Regions from separate parts of the Homo sapiens genome. Here all the other regions are linked to region 3. The links come from fine-mapping of genetic effects on gene expression. A gene starts in region 3. Each other region holds a variant in brackets. All regions are shown on one strand. Distances are between the middles of the regions. Region 1 overlaps NARF (nuclear prelamin A recognition factor). Region 2 overlaps OGFOD3 (2-oxoglutarate and iron dependent oxygenase domain containing 3). Region 3 holds the start of NARF (nuclear prelamin A recognition factor).

Region 1 (7,694 bases), 24 kb before region 3:
GGCCCACCCTCCCTCCACGCAACAAGGGAGCCCCTCAGGCCCAGGCTGGGTCACACCCCTTCCCGCTTCCACCTCTCACTGCTCTCTCCCATCACTCAGGACAGAGAAGGCTCATGCTTGGTGCCTGGCACGGGGCAGGGGTGTTTCTCCTAGGCAGGGCAGCCTCAACTCTTGTGATTTGTTCTCTAAGCCAGCCGCCACGGGCTGACTCTCACCTGGTGCCATGTTGGGCCTCCTGAGGGCACGTCCCCAAGAGAATGCCCACATGCTACATGGGGTGAGGAAAAGAGCAAAACCAATGGAGCCTAGAATGTCCCAGCACAAGCCCCACGGGAGCATCCATACCCTACAAAGCTCTCAGGGCTGAGAGAGGCTCTGGGTGGCCAAGAGCACCATCTCTCTGGCAGCTGCAGGACCAGTGTGGCCTGAGCACCCGTGGGAGACAGAGCCAGGTGCTGCTCTTGGCGCCTCACCTCCAGCACAGGCGAGGACCTCCACAAAGTGGAATGGGAACTTGCCCTTCTTAAGCTTCAGGATCATGTTCTGGATGTTTCGAAAGCCATAGGCTGCAGCAAAGCGTAACACCACCTCTCCGTTCTTCTCAAGGGTGACCTCTTGGAAGTCTTTGTTTCTACAAAATGAACACAGAGAATTTTGATCCATCAAGTCCTTTATCTGTGACTTAAGAACACTTCCTTTTTTTTTTTGAGACGGAGTCTTGCTCTGTTGCCCAGGCTGGAGTGCAGTGGCACCATCTTGGCTCACTGCAACCTCTGCCTCCCGGGTTCACGCCATTCTCCTGCCTCAGCTTCCCGAGTAGCTGGGACTATAGGCGCTCACCACCACACTCGGCAAATTTTTTGTATTTTTAGTAGAGATAGGGTTTCACTGTGTTAGCCAGGATGGTCTCGATCTCCTGACCTCATGATCCGCCCGCCTCGGCCTCCCAGAGTGCTGGGATTACAGGCACGAGCCACCGCACCCGGCCAAGAACACTTTCTAATGTAAGTTTGGAATGTCAGCAAAATAAAAGGTCTGAATAAACACAAAAAAGTCCTTTTGATTTTGACTAGTGTAAACTCCATCCATAGAACCGCCACATGCACAGATCCATACAGGCACACCATGCACACGTGCTAACCACAGGCACAGACAGGCTGTGGATACTGCCCCACACCTCAGGGCTCGGTAAGTGACCTCCTCCACATCCTCGTTGAACAGCTCCTTGGCCGCATGTCTGAAGATGTGTGCCAGGTGCCCGTCTGAGCTGGCTCCATCATGACGCGTCACTTTGTCCTCCTTCAAGTCTCCAAACCTCACAAGGCAGAGAAAATACAAGTCCTTCATGAATGCTGACGTACAGTGACAGAAAGAGTGAAACCAGACTTCCTGAGGGCATCACAATCCAAGTTCGCCACCAAAGAAGCTAAATCCTGTACAGATGTTTAAACTTTGCAGAAAGTCCCATTCTAGCATCTTGAGGGGTCTTGGGAGGGCCTGCCTGATGCTCGGGCAAGGCGGAGGACTCTCAGTCACGCCGAGCCCATGCACAGGCTCTTGCAGGTGCTCCAGATGCTTATGGTCTTTTTCTTTTGGAGACAGGGTCTTGTTCTGTCTCTCAGGCTGGAGTGCAGTGGCACAATCATAGCTCACTACAGCCCCAGCCTCCTGGACTCAAGTGATCCTCCTACCTCAGCCTCCCAAAGTACTGTGATTATAGGTGTGAGCCACCACGCCTGGCCCCACAGATGCTTAAATTCTGTAAACTTCTATCTTACCTTCCCCCAAAAGGGCACGAATGCAGCACCTGGGATGCGGACTGTTGGCGAGGACACACGCTGCTGCCTTTGTGGTGCTCTCTGCCCAGTGCCTGGGGTGCAGCAGGAGCCCTGGGCCTTGCTGGGTATCGAGGTCACCGCCCCCAGCAGAACCCAGACTGCCACTCTTGGTGCAAAGGGGCCTGAGGGAGCTGCCCCACTGCCCCATAGACCACACGGAATGTGAGGCACAGACGGCACTCAGGAAGAAGGGGGCTGGTGCACACATGAACAGCCCTGCGCCAGCGAGGACAAAGCTGTTTGTGCATTTTGTCCTTCCTCAAGGGTTTAGGGTGGCAATCACACCATGGAAGCCCGCCAAACCTTCAACTCCCTGGCAGCCCTGGTGAATGGTATCCCATTCAACAGCTATAGGGTGGCTGAGGGTTGTGGCAGGGGCCTGGGGGACTGCATCGCAGTGCTTCACATGGCCTCGTCATAAAGCAGGGCAGCCCTGGGCCTGGCAGGTGGCTGGCAGGGCTGACGAGAGGTCCTGCCCCCCAGAGGACTCTCCCCAGAGAAGCCACTTACAGAGTGTCGACGGCAGCATCTCTCACTGAGAGGTCACCTTGCTCCATTATTTGAGCAATTTCACCTGCAGACAAACGAAGTAAGACACTGAAAAGACACAGGTGGCCACAGGAACTTTTCTTCCCCTGCAGGAGATTTGACATTAGTGACCCTGGGTGACCTCCCTCTTATGAAATCTCCATCACACACAGCAGGAGTCCATCTAAAGGGCAAAGTGAGGCCAATAAAATGAAACACTAATAAAACGTAAGCAGAATTCAATTCTAACTCCTCTTTCCATTCCTCTTTCTGCCCTTGAACTGTGGGATTTATGTAAACAATCTCTCCATGATTTTCCCATGTGGAAAATCTGTAAACTTTTTTGGCCTACTTTGCATGAAACAAACAGAAAACTTTTGTGTATAACAAGCTCACAGAGATAGGATGATGAAATATACACTGGTTGCATTTTTTTTTTTTTGAGATGGAGTCTCACCTCCGCCGCCCAGGCTGGAGTCCAGTGGTGCAATCTTGTCTCGCTGTAACCTCTGCCTCCCGGGTTCAAGTGATTCTCTTGCCGCAGCCTCCTGAGTAGCTGTGATTACAGGTGTGCACTACCACGCCTGGCTAATTTTTGTATTTTTAGTAGAGACGGGGGTTTCACCATGTTGGCCAGACTGGTCTCGAACTCCTGACCTCAGGTGACCAGCCTGCCTCAGCCTCCTGAAGTGCTGGGATTACACGTGTCAGCCACTGCACCCAGCCCTTTTTTTTTTAAGAAACAAGGTCGCCAGTCTAGCCAACATGGCGAAACCCCCTCTCTACTAAAAACACAAAAATTAGCCTGGTGTGGTGGGGCGCACCTGTAATCCCAGCTACTCGGGAGGCTGAGGGAGGAGAATCGCTTGATCCTAGGAGGCGCGGAGGTTGTAGTGAGCCAAGATGGAGCCACTGCAGAGCCTGGGTGACAGAGTGAGACTCCGTCTCAAAAAATAAAAAAAAAGAGACGAGGTCTCACTGTGTTGCCCAGCAAGGTCTCAAACTCCTGGGCTCAAGTGATCCTCCAGCCATAGCCTCCTGAGTGGCTGGAATTAGAGGTCTGAGCCATTGTACCCAGCTACATTTATATGACAATTGTTTATTCTGCAATGAGATCAACTGAAAGTGAGAACCACTTTCTGTATTTCCTTTTACATGAGGATGCCTGAAAAAACCCTTAATAGAAAAACTGAGCCTCTAAAACTATGGCTGTGGCATCACATTAGATGCTGTGAGATGGCTGGAAACACAGGTAAGAAAATAGCGTAATTTCCTATAAATCTGCACTCAGAAAAAAGATGGCTGGACATGGTTCTTCTGACAGCCCACCGCGCATGTTTTATTTTGTCAACGTAAGCAGATGGCCCCTGGGCCCTTCCTCTGAGAGTGAAGGATGGCCGTGCTGAGGACCCTTCTATCCCTCATCCTTCAACACCCCTGCCACATCACCCCACAGGGAGCCTGTGCCTATGGGGTGGGGACCTTTCCAGAGGCGTCTGCGTGCTAGAATTTCAAGTCAGGGGCCTGTGAGGGACAT[T/C]GGCGCCCTTAAAGATTGTCCCTGAGAGCTGACCTCTCTGCCTCATCTACCACTGATCTAAATACCTGCAGGGACCTGTTTTCAGAGACCAATTAAAACAGTTCCGCCAGAATTTTAACAAAGTCTTAAGCTTCCCCCACCAACTGATGTCAACATTCTTCTGAATGGGTTCTACATAATTCCAGGGAATCACTTCCATCCACAACACACACAGAACTCACTGTAGGCTCTTAACATCTGAAAGGAGTGGCCAATACCGTGGTAAAGGCAATATCACTGGAGCAAACGTGCCTTTTTCATTTTATTCTGAATGAAAAAAACTTCACTTGTGTTTTAAGTGCAGACTTGGTTTGTGATTAGGAGACCCGCTATGGCTATAGACAACTTTCCCACCAAGAGATAAGTACCTTACATGGACTGTAATGTAAAGTTAGGGCCACCACACTGCCCAAGTGGTTCTCCCAGGACCTGATTTATCTTTTTTTTTTTTTTTTGAGACAAAGTTTTACTCTTGTTGCCCAGGCTGGAGGGTAATGGCGCGATCTCGGCTTACTGCAACCTCTGCCTCCCGGGTTCAAGCGATTCTCCTGCCTCAGCCTCCCGAGCAGCTGGGATTACAGGCATGTGCCACCATGCCCGGCTAGTTTTTTGTAGTTTTAGTAGAGACGGGGTTTCTCCATGTTGGTCAGGCTGGTCTCGAACTCCTGACCTCAGGTGATCCACCTGCCTTGGCCTCCCAGTGCTTAGATTACAGGCGTGAGCCACTGTGCCCAGCTGAGACCTGATTTATCTTGAGGAAGATGCACAGAGGAGACAGGAGGCTAGATCGAACATGACCCTTCTCTTCACCTGCAGTTAAGCCCCTAGGACCCTCAGCTGTCAGTAACTTCAGACAAGCGACCACATTGGCAGGCACTGAGATGGCTCTGGGACACAGATCTGCCTGGCTCTGGTGTGTACTGGCCAGTAGGAGATTACCCCAGCGCCCAGGTGCACCCCCGCCCACCTCTCACCTGATGTTAACACGCAGTCAGCGCCCCGGGAGCCATGCAAAGCAGGGGGAAGGCTTTCCTGAAGAGCCTCCAGCTTCTTGTCATAACAAGGGGCCACAATGACGTGGAAAATCTTCTCTGGAGACAGGTTCTGTGGGAGAGGGGCACCCATATTTAGGGCTGGTGAAGAGGTGACGGCAGCTTACGCTTGGTGCCCAGAACAAGAGGGATGGGAGACCGAATGCCCCCTGCTGCTGCCCTCCAGACACTGCATGCTGCACTCTTTTTTTTTTTTTTTTTTTGAAATGGAGTCTTGCTCTGTCACCAGGTTGGAGTGCAGTGGCGTGATCTCAGCTCACTGCAAACTCTGCCTCCCGGGTTCAAGCGATTCTCCTGCCTCAGCCTCCCGAGTAGCTGGGACTACAGGCGCATGCCGCCACGCCTGGCTAATTTTTTGTACTTTAGTAGAGATGGGGTTTCACCGTGTTGCCCAGGCTGGTCTCAAACTCCTGAGCTCAGGCAATCTGCCCGCCTCGGCCTCCAAAGTACTAGAATTACAGGCGTGAGCCATCGAGCCTGGCTGCATGCAGCACTTTCTTGGGGCTGGGACTGTTGTGGGTCTGAGGCCGGGCCCCACAGATGAAAGTGCTGTAGCCACATCTGGCTCCCATCCCCTCTTCAACTCTACCGAGCACCAGCACTCCATCCATGTCTGTCTGCTGCCTCCCTCAGGACTGGGTGTGGTCCTCCCAAACATCTGCAAAGCCCCCCAGCCAGTGGAGCCTCCTGGAAGAACCGGGAAGGCTGAGCCCATTTCCTCCTGAACCTGTGCACATGGGGACAAAACAAGTAAGAGGAAGTCCAGCCGGCGTGGAGCTGTTGCTGGTCCAGCATGGAGCCATTGCAGGAGGCCTGAGTGAGTGTGTGTGTGTGTGTGTGTGTGCGCGCGCTGGCTACTTCACCCACAGACTTTCCTGAATCTTCCCAAGCGATGCCCACCCAAGCTACCCCTCTCCTGGGTCCACACAGAGCAGGTGCCTGTGGCTGGGCCTGAACTGGTGGCAAAGCCAGGAGCCAGCAGTTGCCAAGTGACCCTGTGGTGAGGTCTGGGTGGAAAGGACCCACTCAGGGCAGGGGCGGAGCAAAAGAGGAAACCCGCCCCTGGTTGCAGCTGTGCCAGGTGGTCAGGTGAGAGGCTGCTGGAGGCCGGGTCTCTGCGGCTGCCCCTCATGGCACCTACAGGAGGACACATAGCTCTGGGCTCCATCCAGGGGAGAGGGCAGCACGTGGAAGACCTAGAAACACATGGCTCTCTTCAGGTGGGGGCAGGGCAAGGGACAGAAAGTCCCATAGCTCATTTTTCGGTCCTGCCTAAACTGAACGTGTATACTCTGACATCATGTTTATAATTTGCCAAATTATGACTTTATGGGTAGAAAGAAACTAGATAGAAGGAAAACACTGCCTATTGCTAAAATAACAAGGCTGCCAAATGTGCGTGCCTTTTTAGGCTGACTTCAAATGTCTGAAAGATCCTGATGTTACCCTCTACTCCAGTTACCACAGTGCCTGGACATGGCTGCTTCCCCGGAGGGAGGTGTAAAGTCTGATTGAGAAGAGCAGTGTGGGGCATGCCAGCGGCTGGAGAATAAACCATGGGATTAGGGTCCCTTTGAGGGTGGCCTTGGAGACATCAGGGAGTTCTGGGAGGACCTGGGGGCCGCAGAGGGTTGTGGGAAGGGAGAACACGACGGGCCGAGGCAGGGGGCACGCAGGAGCCTCAGGCCGGGACTCACTCCATCAAGAGGAGGACAGCATCATGGCCACTGTGGAATCTCACAGAAGTGGCTAAGGAAGTCATGTGATGCCCGTGGTCTGAGGGAAAGGCCAGGGCAGAGGCCAGGTTTGGCTCCCTAAATGACAGCTGCCCTCAGCCTCCAGGCACAGGCCACTTTAGGCCTCCTTGGGTGAGGCATCCCAACAGCAGGCAGGCAGCATCTCTGGGCAAGGTCCGGGGCCTCATTCTCAGCAGGGTGGGCAGCATTTCTACTCTACCCCGAATGGGCCCAGGAAAACCACCAGATGCCACAGAAAAGGTTAAGAAGAAAGAAAAAGGTTGTAAGAGGAAGGGAGGAATAGAGACGGGCGTTGGTGAGAAACAGCACTGCTGATGTTTCCTGAAGCCACAGCTTCCTTTTTGCTCACCTGGGGGGCCGTGACCACGCTGGACAGATGGGGAACCTCCCCTTCCTGGGCCCCTGTGCCATGGTCCTCCCTCACCTGCCCTTCCTGCCCTCCAGAGAGGTCAGCTTACCTGCTGTCTGGCGAAATAATCCTTCACCAAAGAGCCCATGACCTGCTGGGGGGACTTGGCGGTGCAGAGGTGGGCAGTGATGGGGCGACCCAGCACCCGCTCGGCGTATCGGACCCAGCCTGGGGAGAGAAGGGATCCACGGTCAGCTCCTTACTGCTTCCTCTGGTCTTCCTGTAACGCACCAGGGAATGCTGAGCTCGAGTCCCTGCCGCCCCAGGGTGAAGCCAGAACACCTTTTCCCCAGGCCTTACCAGGAGCTCGTGCTGGACCCAAAACCCGTCCTCGGTGGCCCGGCTGTGGGTCATGGGAACCTGCAGGCCTGGAGGCTACTGGGAAATGGGAGCATCCCTGCAAGGCCGACAGACAAGTAAGAGTCGGAGTAACAGGTCCCCCAAAAAGGTGAAGGGGAACAAGCACTGAAAGGCAGCAGGAGCAGCGGCCCAGGCTGCACCGTGCAAAATCGCCTGGCCAGCTACAGCGTCCTT
Region 2 (7,694 bases), 49 kb after region 3:
TGCCGCGGGGGACCCTCTCTTCCCTCTAGTGATTCTCTTTGCTAGTACAGAGGCTGCGCCACGGGCCTGTGTGGCTCTCATTGCATTTGCTGTTTGCTTTCCGCTTTCCTGTGTCCTCGCGTTTTGTGGGGTAAACCTTATAAAAAAGCATAAAATGACTTTTTGTTTTTGAAATACAACACCTATGTCCATTAGATCATTTAACCACAGTAACTACAGCCCCCCTTCCCTGATATTCAGCCAAGTGGAGCTCTGTTTATCTCCTGGCACAAGGCCCAGAGAAAGGAACCAAGGTCATCTCGGTGCCTTGTGATCCCTGGGTCCAAGCCCCTGATGCTGGCACTCAGCACTGAGTGCGAGGCTTTTATTCCCATGGTCCCGGGAGGGATGCTCCACGTCCAGGCTCAGGGCTGGCTTTTTAGGCAGGATGTAGGGAGAGGGAGGAAAAGCATATTGTGGAGTCCCGGTTTGCCCCATGTCCTGGTGCTTGTGGGCTGCTGTCTGATCGATCAGGCATGGCCTGACGCCTTTCCAGCGCATGAAGCCAGCTGCACTTGGTACCAAACCACAGGGGCGGGTCCCTGGGCCCCTCTCCGACACTCTGCTGTACCTTGTGCATCTGTGCGATGCTGCCTCGACCACCCTGCCCCTGCCCTGACCACCCTGCCCCAAACACCCTAACCCTGTCTGACCACCCTGCCCCTGCCCCAAACACCCTGCCCCTGCCCTGTCCACCTTTCCTCTGCCCAATGACCCTGACTCCTGTCCACTCTGATCCTGTCCCAACGACACTGCCGCTGCCCCAAACGACCTTGCCCCTGCCCCGATAACCATGCCCCTGCCCCGATAACCATGCCCCTGCCCCGATAACCATGCCCCTGCCCCGATAACCATGCCCCTGCCCCGATAACCATGCCCCTGCCCCGATAACCATGCCCCTGCCCCGATAACCATGCCCCTGCCCCGACCGTGTTGCTCCTGTCCCAACGACCCTGCCCCTGCCCCGACCACCCTGACCCCCATTTGAGCTGCTGCTTCCTCTTCCCTCTCAGCCTCCGCAGGTCACCAAGGTACGGGGAGAGACAGGGGCATGTGCGGAGCAGTTCGCTGTGCCCTGGGGAAGGACTGGGACTAGACCCACAAGCTCCACTCTGGTGGTCTCAGGAGGGTTTTCTGCTCCAGTGGTCTCAGGAGGGTTTTCCTCTCTGGCGGTCTCAGGAGGGTTTTCTGCGCCAGTGGTCCCAGGAGGGTCTTCCTCTCTGGTGGTCTCAGGAGGGTTTTCTGCTCTGGTGGTCTCAGGAGGGTTCCCCCCTCTGGTGGCCTCAGGAGGGTTTTCCTCCCTGGTGGTCTCAGGAGGGTTTTCCTCTCTGGCGGTCTCAGGAGGGTTTTCTGCTCTGGTGGTCTCAGAAGGGTTTTCTGACGGTGCCTGTGGGTGTCTGGACCTGCAGTCAGTGATGGTTCAGGAATGCTGTTGACGCCGTGTCTGGGGTTTCTGTGACTTTCCCAGGGTTTGGGGCAGCAACAGGTGCCTCTGGATTAAATTTCCAGTTGGAGCCACTGGAAGCCAAGGTGGCCCAGTGAGACGTGAACTCCAGATGCACCGCACAAAGCGCATGCACGCTGGAGAGCTGTGGTTGTGTGTGTCTGAAATTCACATTTGACCGGGCGTATTAGCCAGTTCTGGCCCTGATTCCCTGGAAGGGCATGCGCCGGTGGCCTTGGAAACTGCGTCTCACCCTGGCTGTCCCTTCACAGGCTGCACTCCCCGAAAGTGCGGCAGAGGTGTCACCGATGTCGTCATCACCAGGGAGGAAGCGGAGCGGATTCGCAGGTAACCGCCTGTCCCTGAGCACGGTGGGATTCAAACAAACACACGCGGAGTGGGGCTAGGGCGGGAAGCAGAGCATTGTTAGTAATAAAGTGGTTTTAAGGATTTTATTGCCAGGCGTGGTGGCTCACGCCTGTAATCCCAGCACTTGGGGAGGCTGAGGCGGGCAGATTGCCTGAGTTCAGGAGTTCGAGACCAGCCTGGGCAACATGGTGAAACCCTGTCTCTACTAAAATACAATAAATTAGCTGGGTGTGGTGGCATGTGCCTGTAGTCCCAGCTACTCAGGAGGCTGAGGCAGGAGAATCGCTGGAACCCGGGAGGCAGAGGTTGCAGTGAGCCAAGACTGCACCACTGCACTCCATCCTGGGCGACAGAGCGAGATTCTATCTCCAAAAAAAAAAAAAAGATTTTATTATAATTTTATAAGAATTTCCAGGCTGGGTGCGGTGGCTCATGCCTGTAATCCTAGCACTTGGGGAGGCCAAGGCGGGTGGATTGCCTGAGCTCAGGAGATCGACACCAGCCTGGGCAACATGGTGAAACCCCTGTCTCTACTAAAATATGAAAAATTAGCCGAGTGTGATGGCACACTCCTGTAATCCCAGCTACTCAGGAGGCTGAGACAGGAGAATTGCTTGAACCTGGGAGGCAGGGATTGCAGTGAGCCGAGATTGAGCCATTGCATTCCAGCCTGGGTGACAGAGTGAGACTCCATCTCAAAAAAAAAAAAAAAAAAAAAAAAAAGAATTATGTGCTTTCAAGGGCCAAGCTCAGATTTTCCGATTTCAGGAGAGGAGACCATGGCCCTCAGCGAAGCAGTAGCTGGGAGAGTACCCAGAGGCCCAGGTTCCTCTGCAGGGGTTGTGGCCGCCTCTGGGGGCTGCTGCTGAGTGCCCCATGCTCCCCACGGAGCCTCCGGGACACTGCTCAATGACCGCTCAGTGTCTGCTCTGAAACTGCCTCCAGGGAGCCCGTCAGCCCACCTGGCTATGACTTGTGGCAGCACAGGATGCCACTCAGAGGCTACTGGTGCTGGACTTTTCTTACTGAGATCTTAAAAGAAAGTTTTGATTTTCCAACCACTTGTTGAGACGATAAGCATGTGGAATGGTGTGCAGCCCTGGGCCACGTGCCCTGCCCTGAGATTCTCCCCAGGGAGCCTGCCCCCGAGGATGCTGCCTAGCTCCACGCAGGGTTACTGCTGCCTAGCTCCAGTGGGGTTACTGCTGTCTGACTGAGGCACCGGCGTGTCCCCACTTGGTGTCCACAGGCAGCTCCCAGCACCTGTGGCAGCTCAGGGTGGTCCTCTGTGGTCCAGCACAGCTGGCGTGTGGGTGTCTTTCTCCCACCATGGTCAGGGCCCCTATCTCCTGAGCTGGTGAATCTCAAAGCTTCCCCCACCTGCCTGGGGTTCCAGGAGAGATGGGGAGCAGTGGGCCCTCCCCTAGATGCTCCCCAGGCTCCTGAGCTTGGCCCAGGTGGCTTTCGATATTGAAGATGAGAGATTAAGCCCAGCCCTCCCTTTCTCTCTCTCTCTCTCTCTCTCTTTTTCTTTCTTTCTTGACAGAGTCTTGCTTTGTTGTCCAGGCTGGAGTGCAGTGGCGCGATCTCGGCTCACTGCAACCTCTGCCTTCTGGGTTCAAGCGATTCTCCTGGCTCAGCCTCCAGAGTAGCTGGGATTACAGGCACCTGCCATCACAGCTGGCTAATTTTTGTATTTTTAGTTGAGACGAGGTTTCACCATGTTGGCCAGGCTGGTCTGGAACTCCTGACCTCGTGATCCACCCGCCTTGGCCTCCCAAGGTGCTGAAGCCCAGTCGTTTCTAAGCTGAGTCAAATATTGACAAGACAACGATGGCAGTATTGTCGCTTACGCACTGAACTTTGAAAGTTGAGTCCTTTGGTCTAAACATTTGTTTACATCATAAACATTAAACACGCAGGACCCACTAATGTTGCATTAATTTTGCTGATTGACGTTTGCCTAGATTATACATTATAGACAATTCTAGCAACGAAATTCTGAATTATTTTCTCCCTGCAGCGTAGCTGAAAAGGGGCTCTCCCTGGGAGGATCTGACGGAGGGGTGAGTTGAATGTAGTCCCTGCCCCCCTTTTTTTACCCGTTAACTTTGCTCTCACTTGGATGGGAAGGGGAAGGCACAGACATGCAGGGTTCCCTGCGTGCCCCCAAATGTGGGTGGGGCCTGCCGTGGTGTTTCTCAGCACCAGCCGCAGCAGCTGCGCCTGACTGAAACCCGTGCGGCGTCCCCTCGTTGGGAAGAGTGTGTCCTTAGATGTGCGTGGCCATCTATTCATGGCATGTCACGGCCTGCCTGGCTCCAGTTCACACTGGGGGATAGAGGGGGTCGGAAGCAGGGAGCCGGCAAGGGAGCGGGGTGGGAGCCCAGCGAGGAGACGGCTGCGCATGCTGGACACAGGAGAGCCCGTGGAGCTGCCGGGAAACAGCAGGGCCTCCGTGGGACAGACACGCTGCAACGCATCCTGCAACTTCCTAGCTGGACGCCTCCATGGACGCCCTGTGGGGCTGTCGTCCCATGTGAGGCTGCAGGGGGTCAGCTAGTGGCCTCGGATAATGTGTTCACCTGGAGCCCGTGGACATGATCTGATTTGGAAAAGGGACCTTTGCAGATGTAATTAACTTAAGGATCTCAAGATGACATCATCCCAGATTTAGGGTCCTAAATCCAATGGCAAGTGCCTATAGGAGACAGAGGCAGGGGGAGATTTGAGAGGGAGGAGGAAAAGGTCCTGTGATGATGGAGGCAGAGATGGGAGCAGTGCGGCCATGGAAGAGGCGGGCAGGACCTCCCCTGGAGCCCTGGGAGGGAGCAGGGCCCCTCCCACACCTCGATTTTAGACTCCTGGGCTCTAGAACTGTGAGAGAATAAACTTGTGTTGTTTTAAAGCCCCAGTTTGTGTTACCACAGCCGCAGGGATCATGGAGCCACC[G/A]CCGGCTGTGGCCTCGCCCTCCTGTTGGGCAGTGGCTGGGAGTCAGTCTGGTGCAGCTGGTGTTAGCTCCAATTCCCATGCGGTTTCCTCAGGGTTGTTTTCTTGCTCGGTGTGTGGAATTGTCTGAAGATCTGTTTCTCTCTGTTTATTTGGTGATCGCTTTGAATTATAATCACTGAATAGACTTGAGTCTTTCTGCATATTTGAAACTTCTAGAAAATTAATTTATAGACTCTTTGAGAATTTCAAAGTATTTCTGTGATGGTCTGTGTGACTTTTTTCTGCAAACTCTTTTCTCTTGAGTTCTGAAAATTAAGTTCCTTTTTTTCTTCTTTTTTTGAGACAGAGTCTCGCTCTGTTGCCCAGGCTGGAGTGCAATGGGGCGATCTCCACTCACTGCAACCTCCAACTCCTGGGTTCAAGCCATTCTTCTGCCTTAGCCTCCTGAGTAGCTGGGACTACAGGCATGTGCCATGATGCCCGGCTAATTTTTGCATTTTAAATAGAGATGAGGTTTCACCATGTTGGCCAGGCTGGTCTTGAACTCCAGAGCTCAGGTGACCCACCTGCCTTGACCCCCCAAAGTGCTGGGATTACAGGTGTGAACCACCGTGCCCGGCCTAAGTTCCTCCCTTTATTTCAGTTTGGTTTGGTTCAGTTCGGGGGCTATTTGTTAAAGATCTGTGAGTGAGTAGGTTTCTGTTTCACAGCTCCTCCACGTTCACATGGGAAGTTGTCCTGCATGGAGCTGGCTGGGCCGCTGCTTTGGGTTCAGTTACTGTTCAGCGGGCCCAAGCTAGGTTAGTGCCGCAGGGCCAGTGGCTGTGGCGATGAGGAAGGGGCAGCAGTGGGGCTCCTCTGGGGTCACAGGTGGGATGACTAACGTGGGCTGGAAGCCTCTTCCTCTGAGGACGTAGGGAAGGACTGAGAGGTGGGTGGTCGGGCAGGAAACACTTCAGCAGTGGCTTACAAAGTGATGACTCAGGCTTGGCGTGGCGCGCACTGTGGTGCCAGCCGCCCAGGAGGCCAAGGTGGGAGCACCGCTGTGAGGCATTTACTCGAGAGAAGTCAACACTTGCCCACAGGGACACATGACTGTGACTGGCACGGAGCTGCACGGAGATGGCTCCAGACTAAAAATAGCCCACACGTGCCACCATTCTTTAGGTCACAGGGAACAAAAGTGTTTGGTCCAGGAAGATTTTTTTTTTTTTTTGAGATGGAGTTTCGCTCTTGTAGCCCAGGCTGGAGTGCAATGGCACGATCTCGGCTCGCTGCAACCTCCGCCTCCCTGATTCAAGTGATTCTCCTGCCTCAGCCTCCCAAGTAGCTGGGATTACAGCTCCTTGGGAGGCTATCTCTGTAGGTGTCCCAGCTACAGCTGGGATTACAGCTCGCCACCATGCCCAGCTAATTTTGTATTTTTAGTAGACATGGGGTTTCACCATGTTAGCCAGGCTGGTTTTGAACTCCTGGCCTCAAGCAATCCACCTGTCTCAGCCTCCCAAAGTGCTGGGATTGCAGGTGTGAGCCACCACGTCTGGCCGGTCTGGGAGGATTTTAAGAAAGTCCTGGGTTGAGGCTGGGTGCAGTGGCTAATGCCTGTAATCCCAGTACTTTGGGAGGCTGAGGTGGGAGGATCACTTGAGCCCCGGAGTTCGAGACCAGCCTAGGTAATATAGTGAGACCACATCTCTACAAAAAATAGAAAAATTAGCCAGGTGTGGTGGCGAGCGCCTTTACTTGGGAGGCAGAGGGTGGGAGGATTGTTTGGCCTGGAGCCTGGAATATTGAGGCTGCAATGAGCTGAGATTGTGCCACTGCGCCCTAGCCTGGGCAACAGAATAAGATCCTTTTTACAAAAAACAAAAACAAAAACAAAAAAACACCTGAGGTGTGTGCTGGCCAGACCTTGGAAACTCGCATTTACCATCCATGACTTTTAACAGCCATTGCCATTGCTGCGGCTGCACGCTTTACTCCACAACGTCTTTTCCAGGCATCCATTCTGGACTTGCACTCAGGGGCCCTGTCTGTCGGGAAGCACTTTGTGAACCTGTACAGGTGAGTGCTGCAGCATGACCTCAGTGCTGGCTCTGAAAGCCGAGTGAGCGGCTCCGTGCCTCTTAGCCATGGACATGTGGACACGTGGACATGTGAGGGAGGATCCGGCTCGGTGCAGCCTCAGGGCCTCAGTGGCTGTGATGTTGGCCGGGTCCTTCCTGGTTCTTTGGGACGCAAGAGCTGGGAGGTGTGGACTCTCCACAGCCTGTGGGCAGGGGGCTTGTTCATGAAGCTTTAGGGGAATCTGGTGTTTTTGTGGGCCCAGGGACAGAAGGGATGGGAGCAAGAGGCAGCAGAGATGGGAGGCTCCCAGGAGCAGCTTCCAAGAATCCAACGGGGCCTTTGACGCTCCATGAGGGGCCGGGAGAGCAAAGAGACCCTCCCTGCGTGGATCCGTGTCAGCCTCATGCATTAGCCCTGGGTCTTGCTCCCGGCTGGCTCCTTGTTTTTATTATTATTATTATTATTTTGAGATGGAATCTTGCTCTGTCGCCTAGGCTGGAGTGCAGTGGCGCAATTTCGACTCATTTGACTCTGCCTCCTGGGTTCAAGCAATTTTCCCATCTCAGCCTCCTGAGTAGCTGGGATTACAGGCACGCACCACCACGCCCAGCTAATTTTTGTATTTTTAGTAGAGATGGGGTTGTGCCATGTTGGCCAGGATGGTCTCGAATTCCTGACCTCAAGTGATCCACCTGCCTCGGCCTCCTGAGTAGCTGGGGTTACAGGCACGCACCACCATGCCCAGCTAATTTTTGTATTTTTAGTAGAGATGGGGTTGTGCCATGTTGGCCAGGATGGTCTCGAATTCCTGACCTCAGGTGAT
Region 3 (7,694 bases):
GGCAGGGCGCCCACTTAGGCTGTGTACACACGTTATCTCATCCTCACCACAGTCCTGGGAGGGAGGTAACCCTACTCCCCAGGCCTCTGATAAGGAAACGAGGCTCACAGGGCTTAGATATCTGTCTACAACGACACAACCAGAGGGCAGGTGAGGGAGGCCCCTGGGGTCGGCCACTCAGGCGCACTGGCCCCAGCTGCCTCCAGGGCTCCAATGCACCCTACCTCTCTTCTGCCTGTGGCCAGCTCTTTGGCTGCTTGTCTCAGGCCCTGTTGCTCCCTAAGCCCCACAGTCCCCACAGCACTGGCACACAGGGCAACCGGGAGAACACCTGTCAGATTAAACATGTCAGGACTACTAAACTTAAGGAAAAAATATGCTTCTGCCATATTGCCAACTCTCCATTTATAAACTGGTACTAGTACTTTCTAAGGGTAGACTGACCTTAACCTCTCCCAACACCCTTCACTCAGTAAAACAGGGATAATGGCCAGGCTTACATGTAATGTTCCTTCTGGGCGTGAAATGAGACTGCATGTAAAATGACATTCTTTTTTTTGAGACGGAGTCTCACTCTGTCGCCCCAGCTGGAGTGCAGTGGCGTGATCTCGGCTCACCTCAACCTCCGCCTCCCGGGTTCAAGCAATTCTCCTGCCTCAGGCTCCTGAGTAGCTGGGATTACAGGCATGCACCACCACGCCCAGCTAATTTTGTATTTTTAGTAGAGATGGGGTTTATCTATGTTGGTCAGGCTGATCTTGAACTCCTGACCTCAGGTAATCCACCCACCTCGGCCTCCCAAAGTGTTGGGATTACAGGTGTGAGCCACCATGCCTGGCTGTAAAATCACATTCTTGAGAGCCAGGCTCAGGTTATGTATCCAATAAACAGAGACCATAGCTACTAGCTAAGGAGAATTTAAAAACAAGAACTGAATTAGAAGAGAGGCCAGGTGCAGTGGCTCACGCCTGTAATCCCAGCACTTTGGGAGGCTGAGGCAGGAGGATCACTTGAGCCCAGGAGGTCAAGACCAATCTGGGCAACATAGTGGAACTCCATTTCTACCAAAAAATAAAAATAAAAATAAATTAGCTGAGCATGGTGGTGCATACCTGTAGTCCCAGCTACTAGGGAGGCTGAGGCAGGAGAATCACTTGAGCCTCAGAGGTCAAGGCTGCGGTGAGCCATACAGTGAGCCACTGCACTCCAGCCTGGGTGACAGTGAGACCCTGTCTCAAAAGGGGAAAAAAAAAATTAAAAGAAGAAATCCAGTATTACACCACGTTTTCTTTGTTCCCAATGCAGTGTGTTTTGGTGTAGTGTGTTCTGAGAAGACAGGCCTTGTGCCACTGATGGACTGTCTCACACATGTCTTTATTAGCCCCTTCAAGTTTATTTCAGTCTCGGAGACGGAGTCTTACTCTGTTGCCCAGGCTGGAGTGCAGTGGCGCGATCTTGCCTCACTGCAAGTTCCGCCTCCCAGGTTCACGCCTTTCTCCTGGCTCAGCCTCCCGAGTAGCTGGGACTACAGGCGCCCCCCACCACGCCCGGCTAATTTTTTGCATTTTTAGTAGAGATGAGGTTTCACTGTGTTAGCCAGGATAGTCTCAATCTCCTGATCTCATGATCCGCCTGCCTCGGCCTCCCAAAGTTCTGGGATTACAGGCATGAGCCACCACGCCTGGCCTATTTCAGTCTTTTTTTTGGGACAGAGTCTCACTCTGTTGCCCAGGCTGAAGTACAGTGGTACAATCTCAGCTCACTGCAACCTCTGTCTTCCAGGGTCAAGCAATTCTCCTGCCTCAGCCTCCTGAGTAGCTGGGATTACAGGCGTACACCACCATACCTGGATAATTTTTGTATTTTTAGCAGAGATAAGGTTTCACCATGTTGGCCAGGCTGGTCTCAAACTCCTGACCTCAAGTGATCCGTCCACCTCGGCCTCCCAAAGTGCTGGGATTCCAGGCGTGAGCCACCATGCCCGCGTACTTCAGTCTTCTTTAAAGCAGTGATGTGCACGGTGCTGTGAGCCCCCAAAGAGAAAAACAGCAGCAGTAGTTTACTCTGGGCTGATACAAAACTGAAAAATCTACTTGCCTCTCCATTTTCCTGGGCTGGACTCGGTGCATCGGCTGACACATTCTCTTGGTCATCAGTTTTTGTTTTCTTACTACATTCCTTAAAAAAGCAAAGGAACATTATCAATGAACTTTTACTTCGTCTCCCTTAAGAAAATGTGCACATTCTGACCAATGAAGCTCATGTATTTCTATCCTTTCTTTTAGTTTATTTATTTATTTTTTTAGACGGAGTCTCGCTCTCACCCAGGCTGGAGTGCAGGGGCGCAATCTCGGCTCACTGCAGCCTCCACCTCCCGGGTTCAAGCGATTCTCCTGCCTCGGCCTTCTGAGTAGCTGGGATTACAGGTGTGCGCCACCACACCCAGCTAATTTTATATTTTTAGTAGAGACTGGGTTTCGCCATGTTGGCCACGATGGTCTTGAACTGCTGACCTCAGGTGATCCACCCGCCTCGGCCTCCCCTCCCAAGGTGCTGGGATAACAGGCTTGAGCCACCGTGCCTGGCCTTCTATCCTTCTAACCCTTCTAGTGAAACAGGTACTGAAGGACACACACACATCTCTATTGTTTACAATAATAAAAAAGCAGAAGCAACTGTAGCCTTCACCCCACAGGCGAATTCCCCTGGACACAGGTGTACTTAGAATAGGACGCAGCCACCACCGGGGATGAACGACCCATGGAATGTTAGGAAGCCTCCTGCCACGGCGTCACGCGCAGAAGTGCCAGCCACAGAGCAGCATCCACAGGAGCCCATTCCGGCAATAACAGCTACAAAACCCCCCTGCGTGCGCTGCGCGGTTGTTGCCATGGCCTGGAGACAACCGCGGAAGGCGCCGGTCAGCAGCCGTCACCCGCTTCCGCCCCTGCACCGGCTGCTCGGTGACCCTCAGAGGGGCAGGTTCGAAAACGCCTAAAACCCTCTCGAAACGCTTCTGATCATTCCCGCCACGACCGCTGTTTACTCGGACTGTGGTGCGCGGCACGAGAGGCTCGGTCTCCGTGCGTTTCCGCGCTTCGCGGGCGTGGGAAAGATGGACAAGTTCAGGGAGAACCGCGAAGACCGAACCCGCCCTGCAGAGCGCAGCGGACCCCGCGCCGGCCGCCTCCACGCCGAGCGGGCCCAGGGTGCCGAGGCCGGGGGCGCCTTGAAGAGCCCTGAAGCGAGCGAGCGGCGGGCCCGGACCGCCAACCTCGGCCGCCCAGAGCCCCACAGGACAAGCACCAGGCGCGCGCCTCCCCGGCCCGCGGCGCTCACCTTGCGCGTGCAGTGCTCACACTTCATCTGGAGCGCGGCGGGCGGGAGGCCGGGCGCCTCAGCCTCAGGGAAGCACCGGGAGACTGGGACACCACTGCCCGCCGCCCGCGGCCCTTTGTTGTCCTCCCCCGACGCGGCCTCACCCCCAACGGCCGCGCTCGGCCAATGAGAGCACCGGGAGAGGACAAGCCGCACCCCTGGGCCAATAGGATTCCCCACCCTTACGGCTTTGCCTAGGCCAATGACAGTGTCGGGAAGGGGCGGGCCAGGCCCCAGAGCCAATCGGAGCGCGCGGGGCGGACCGCAGGCTCACTCCACGTACGGCGCCGGGGGGACCGGGTCCTTGCGCCGGTTTCCGCTTCTCGTGGGTCCTGCGGCGGCGGCGGCGGCCAAGCGGCGTTCACCAGGGAGTCGGTGAGCGCGCGGACTGTCCCGAGGCCAAGCTGGGGCCGTTCCAGGGTGCTCGGTCCGGTGGTCACGGGGCCTGGAGGCCCCTGGGCCCGCGGAGGCCGCGGCCGGGCTCTGTCAGCCAGCTCGGCGTTGGACACTCGCCTTACTCGCGGCTCCTAACGGGGCGGGCCGGGGGCACAGCCCTCGTCCGCCGCCATTGCCACTTGACGTCGTGTCACGTAGGCTCGGCGGAGTAGCAGCGCGCATGCGCGGCCTGCCTGTCAGTAACCACGTGATGGACCCGGAAGCCCGAGGGCAGATGCTAAATGATGGCCATTTGACATTTGCGTGTGTTCACTATGGATAGTTTTACCAAGTACATTGATTTGGGCCCTTACAGCTTACAAAGTAAAGATAACACTTACTCCTCCAAGAAATTGATTTCAGCTAAGCAAAACATTGATACAGGGCTATAATGGAAGTGTTGGACTCATAAACGTTTTATGAAATCAGTGTGTGTGTATTACAGAAATCAGAAATGAGAAGTAAGAACATGTCTGGGAGAGTGTGACATAAGAAAAATAACTTGTAGGCGTATTTAACAGACAGCAGCAGTTCTCAGGATTCCCCATGTTAGAGCCTTCCTTCCTGTCCTCTGAGAAATGAAAATGAAATCCAAAGACCCCCAACTGACTACACGAACCCCCTACTGGCTAAGGAGATCCCAGGGTTGCCTTGAAGGCAGTTCTCAGCCATGACAGATGGGAGGTGAGACACCTGTTATTAAGGCCAACCCTTGGCTAACTACCATTAGGTTTTCTTGGCTAAGAGCTTAACGGAAACCAGCGCTTTCGAAAGACTCCACCGCTGATAACAACTCTCTCATTTGCAGTTTCGGCCCAATTGACCAGTATTCCTTACTGATAAGAGACACTGACCATGGAGTGGTTCTGGTGAGATGACATGACCCTCGTGAAGGGGCCTGAAGCTTCATTGTGTTTGTGTATGTTTCTCTCTTCAAAAATATTCATGACTTCTCCTGTAGCTTGATAAATATGTATATTTACACACTGCACCTCATAGATTCCTGTTCCCTTTGCCCCTCCCTGGAAGTGTCTGTTTCTGGCTTCTGGCCAGAGGCAGTGCTTCCCTGTCTGTCAGAATGGCCACCCTGCAGGCTGAAACCCTTTATGAGAAGTAAAGCTCTCCTTTCCAGATTTATGAATCTCATCATTCTTCAGCTTGCCATTGCCCATCGGGTTCTTCCTGCCCACTGCACAGACAAAAAGTCAATTCATCAAGATTGCAGCAGGCCGGGAAAAGAGTTTAATTGACACCTGGCAGGCCACACAGGAGACAGTTACTACTCAAATCAGTCTCTCCAAAGGCTCAGCAGTTAGGAGTTTGTTTTTTGTTTTTTTGTTTTTGTTTTTGAGACGGAGTCTCACTCTGTCACCCAGGTTGGAGTGCAGTGGCACAATCTCGGCTCACTACAACCTCCACCTCCCAGGTTCAAGCGATTCTCCTACCTCAGCCTCCTAAGTAGCTGGGACGACAGGCACACGCCACCACGCCTGGCTAATTTTTGTATTTTTTAGTAGAGATGGGGTTTCACCATAATGGCCAGGCTGGTCTTGAACTCCTGACCTTGTGATCCGCCTGCCTCGGCCTCCCAAAGTGCTGGGATTACAGGCATGAGCCACCACGCCTGGCCGCAGTTAGGGTTTTTATGGACAATTTGGTGGGCAGGGGGCTAGGGAATGGATGCTGCTGATTGACTGGGAATGAAATCAAAAGGGTGTGTGGAAAACGGTCCTCAAGCACTGAGTCTGCCTCTGGGTGGGGCCACAGAAACCAATTGAGTCCTGAGTAGCAGGTTGGGGTGGGTTCACTCTGAAAAACATCTCAAAAAGCCATTCTTAGGTCCTGCAATACTGATATTATCTATAGGTGCAATTCGGGAAGTTGCAAATTTTGTGACCTCTGGCCACATGAGTCCTGAGCAGTGAGGGACTGTAGAAACTAGGCCTGCATTTTAGCAGAGTTCAGGCCACTCCCACAATCCTAACCTTGTGGCCTTTCATTAGCTTTACAAAGGCAATTTCAGCCCCAGAAGTGGGAGGTGATAGTTTTAGGAAGGGACTATTATCATCCTTGTTTCAAGGTTAAACTGTAAATTCCTCCCAAAGCTCCTAAAATTAGCTTGGCTTATGCCCAGGAACAACTGGACAGCTTGGATGTCCAAAGGAAGACGGAATTAACTGTGTGAAATTTCTCTGTCTTTTTTTTTTGAGACAGGGTCTCACTCTGTCACCCAGGCTGGAGTGCAGTGGCGTGATCACAGCTCACTGCAGCCTCAACCTCCTTGGATCAAGTAATCCTTCCACCTCAGCCCCGCGGGGTAGCTGGGACTACAGGCTCACACCACTGTGCATGGCTAAGTTTTAAATTTTTTGTAGATACAGGGTCTCCCCATGTTGCCCAGGCTGTTCTTGAATTCCTGGGCCCAAGTGATCCATCTCAGCCTCCCAAAGTGCTGGGATTACAGGTGTGAGCCACTGCACCCAGCCTCTATCACTGCCTTAATCTTTGCAAAGGCAGTTTCAAGTTGACACTTCAAAGTTGAGCTCAGGCATGGTGGCTCATGCCTGTAATCCCAGCACTTTGGGAGGCCGAGGCAGGCGGATCACTTGAGGTCAGGAGTTTGACACCAGCCTGGCCAACATGCTGAAACCCCATCTCTACTAAGAATACAAAAATTAGCCAGGCATGGTGGTGTGTGCCTGTAATCACAGCTACTTGGGAGGCTGAGGTAGGAGAATCGCTTGAACCTAGGAGGTGGAGGTTGCAGTGAGCCGAGATCGCACCACTGGACTCCAGCCTGGGCGACAGAGTGAGACTTCATCTCAAAAAAAAAAAAATTATTATTTATAGTTTTCATTTTGTATAGCTTTTTACAAATGCAACAATGAAATTCTGGAAGTCTTAACCCTCTAGATTACTCAAATTCAAGTCAGCATCTCTCAGAAAATATCTCCCCTCAACTTCAGTTTAAATAAAAGGATAATTTTAGGTTGTCATTTGTATAGCTTTTTTGTTAATGTTTTACAAACATAACTGGCCAGGTGTGGTGGCTCACGCCTGTAATCCCAGCACTTTGGGAGGCTGAGGTGGGTGGATCACCTGAGGTCAGGTGTTTGAGACCAGCCTGGTCAACATGGTGAAACCCCATCTCTACTAATAATAGAAAAATTTGCTGTGTGTGATAGTGGGTGCCTGTAATCACAGCTACTCAGGAGGCTGAGGCAGGAGAATCACTTGAACCTGGGAGGCAGAGGTTGCAGTGAGCCAGCACCATGCCATTGCACTCCAGCCTGGGCAACAAGAGCAAAACTCCATCTCTAAAATACAAAAAAAAAAAAATGAAATAAAAACATAAGTGTAATATGTTTGAAAGAACAAATTACGGCCGGGTGTATTGGCTCATGCGTGTAATCCCAGAACTTTGGGAGGCCAAGGTGGGAGGATTGCCTGAGCTCAGGAGTTCGCAACCGGCCTGGACAACATGGTGAAACCCCATCTCTAATAAAATACAAAAAATTAGCTGGGCATGGTGGCACGCACCTGTAGTCCCAGCTACTCAGGAGACTGAGGCAGGAGAATTGCTTGAACCTGGGAGGCAGAGGCTGCAGTGAGCCGAGATTGCATGACTGTAGCCTGGGCAACAGGGCGAGACTCCGTCTCAAAAAAAAAAAAAAAAAAGAACAAATTATAATCACTTAATTTTTTTTTTATCAAATAGCCAATGTCCAGTTTTCCCCATTGTCTCATATTTTTTTACAGTTTGTTTAAATCAGGATCTAAATAAGGTCTAGTATGTTTTAATAGTCTATATTACAATTGGTTCATATGTTTCTTAAGTCTCTTTTTCTATGAACTTACGGAAGACATTGAAAAGTCTCTCT

The links. PIP is the estimated chance that this variant, and not a neighbour inherited with it, causes the effect.
Region 1: its variant is fine-mapped to the expression of NARF in whole blood (TOPMed, PIP 0.98).
Region 2: its variant is fine-mapped to the expression of NARF in whole blood (INTERVAL, PIP above 0.99).

The regions. Positions count from the first base shown.
Region 1 is chr17:82,478,434-82,486,127 of GRCh38, reverse strand. NARF (nuclear prelamin A recognition factor) reads right to left here. Exons shown (of 11, transcript NM_012336.4): 6 at 7,210-7,328; 7 at 4,917-5,046; 8 at 2,349-2,412; 9 at 1,178-1,315; 10 at 474-631. Among named protein-coding and RNA genes, the nearest start is that of TRX-CAT1-8, 13 kb to the left of the region's middle. The variant T/C (reference allele first, on the strand shown) is at 3,904.
Region 2 is chr17:82,405,592-82,413,285 of GRCh38, reverse strand. OGFOD3 (2-oxoglutarate and iron dependent oxygenase domain containing 3) reads left to right here. Exons shown (of 9, transcript NM_024648.3): 3 at 1,756-1,831; 4 at 3,876-3,918; 5 at 6,804-6,868. Among named protein-coding and RNA genes, the nearest start is that of HEXD, 8.9 kb to the left of the region's middle. The variant G/A (reference allele first, on the strand shown) is at 4,805.
Region 3 is chr17:82,454,476-82,462,169 of GRCh38, reverse strand. It overlaps NARF (nuclear prelamin A recognition factor), which reads right to left and starts at 3,429. Exons shown (of 11, transcript NM_012336.4): 1 at 3,340-3,429; 2 at 2,098-2,178. The coding sequence starts at 3,366. NARF-AS2 (NARF antisense RNA 2) reads left to right here and starts at 3,651. Exons shown (of 3, transcript NR_184099.1): 1 at 3,651-4,497; 2 at 4,622-4,732. RefSeq lists enhancers at 2,675-3,507, 3,941-4,090 and a silencer at 3,091-3,910.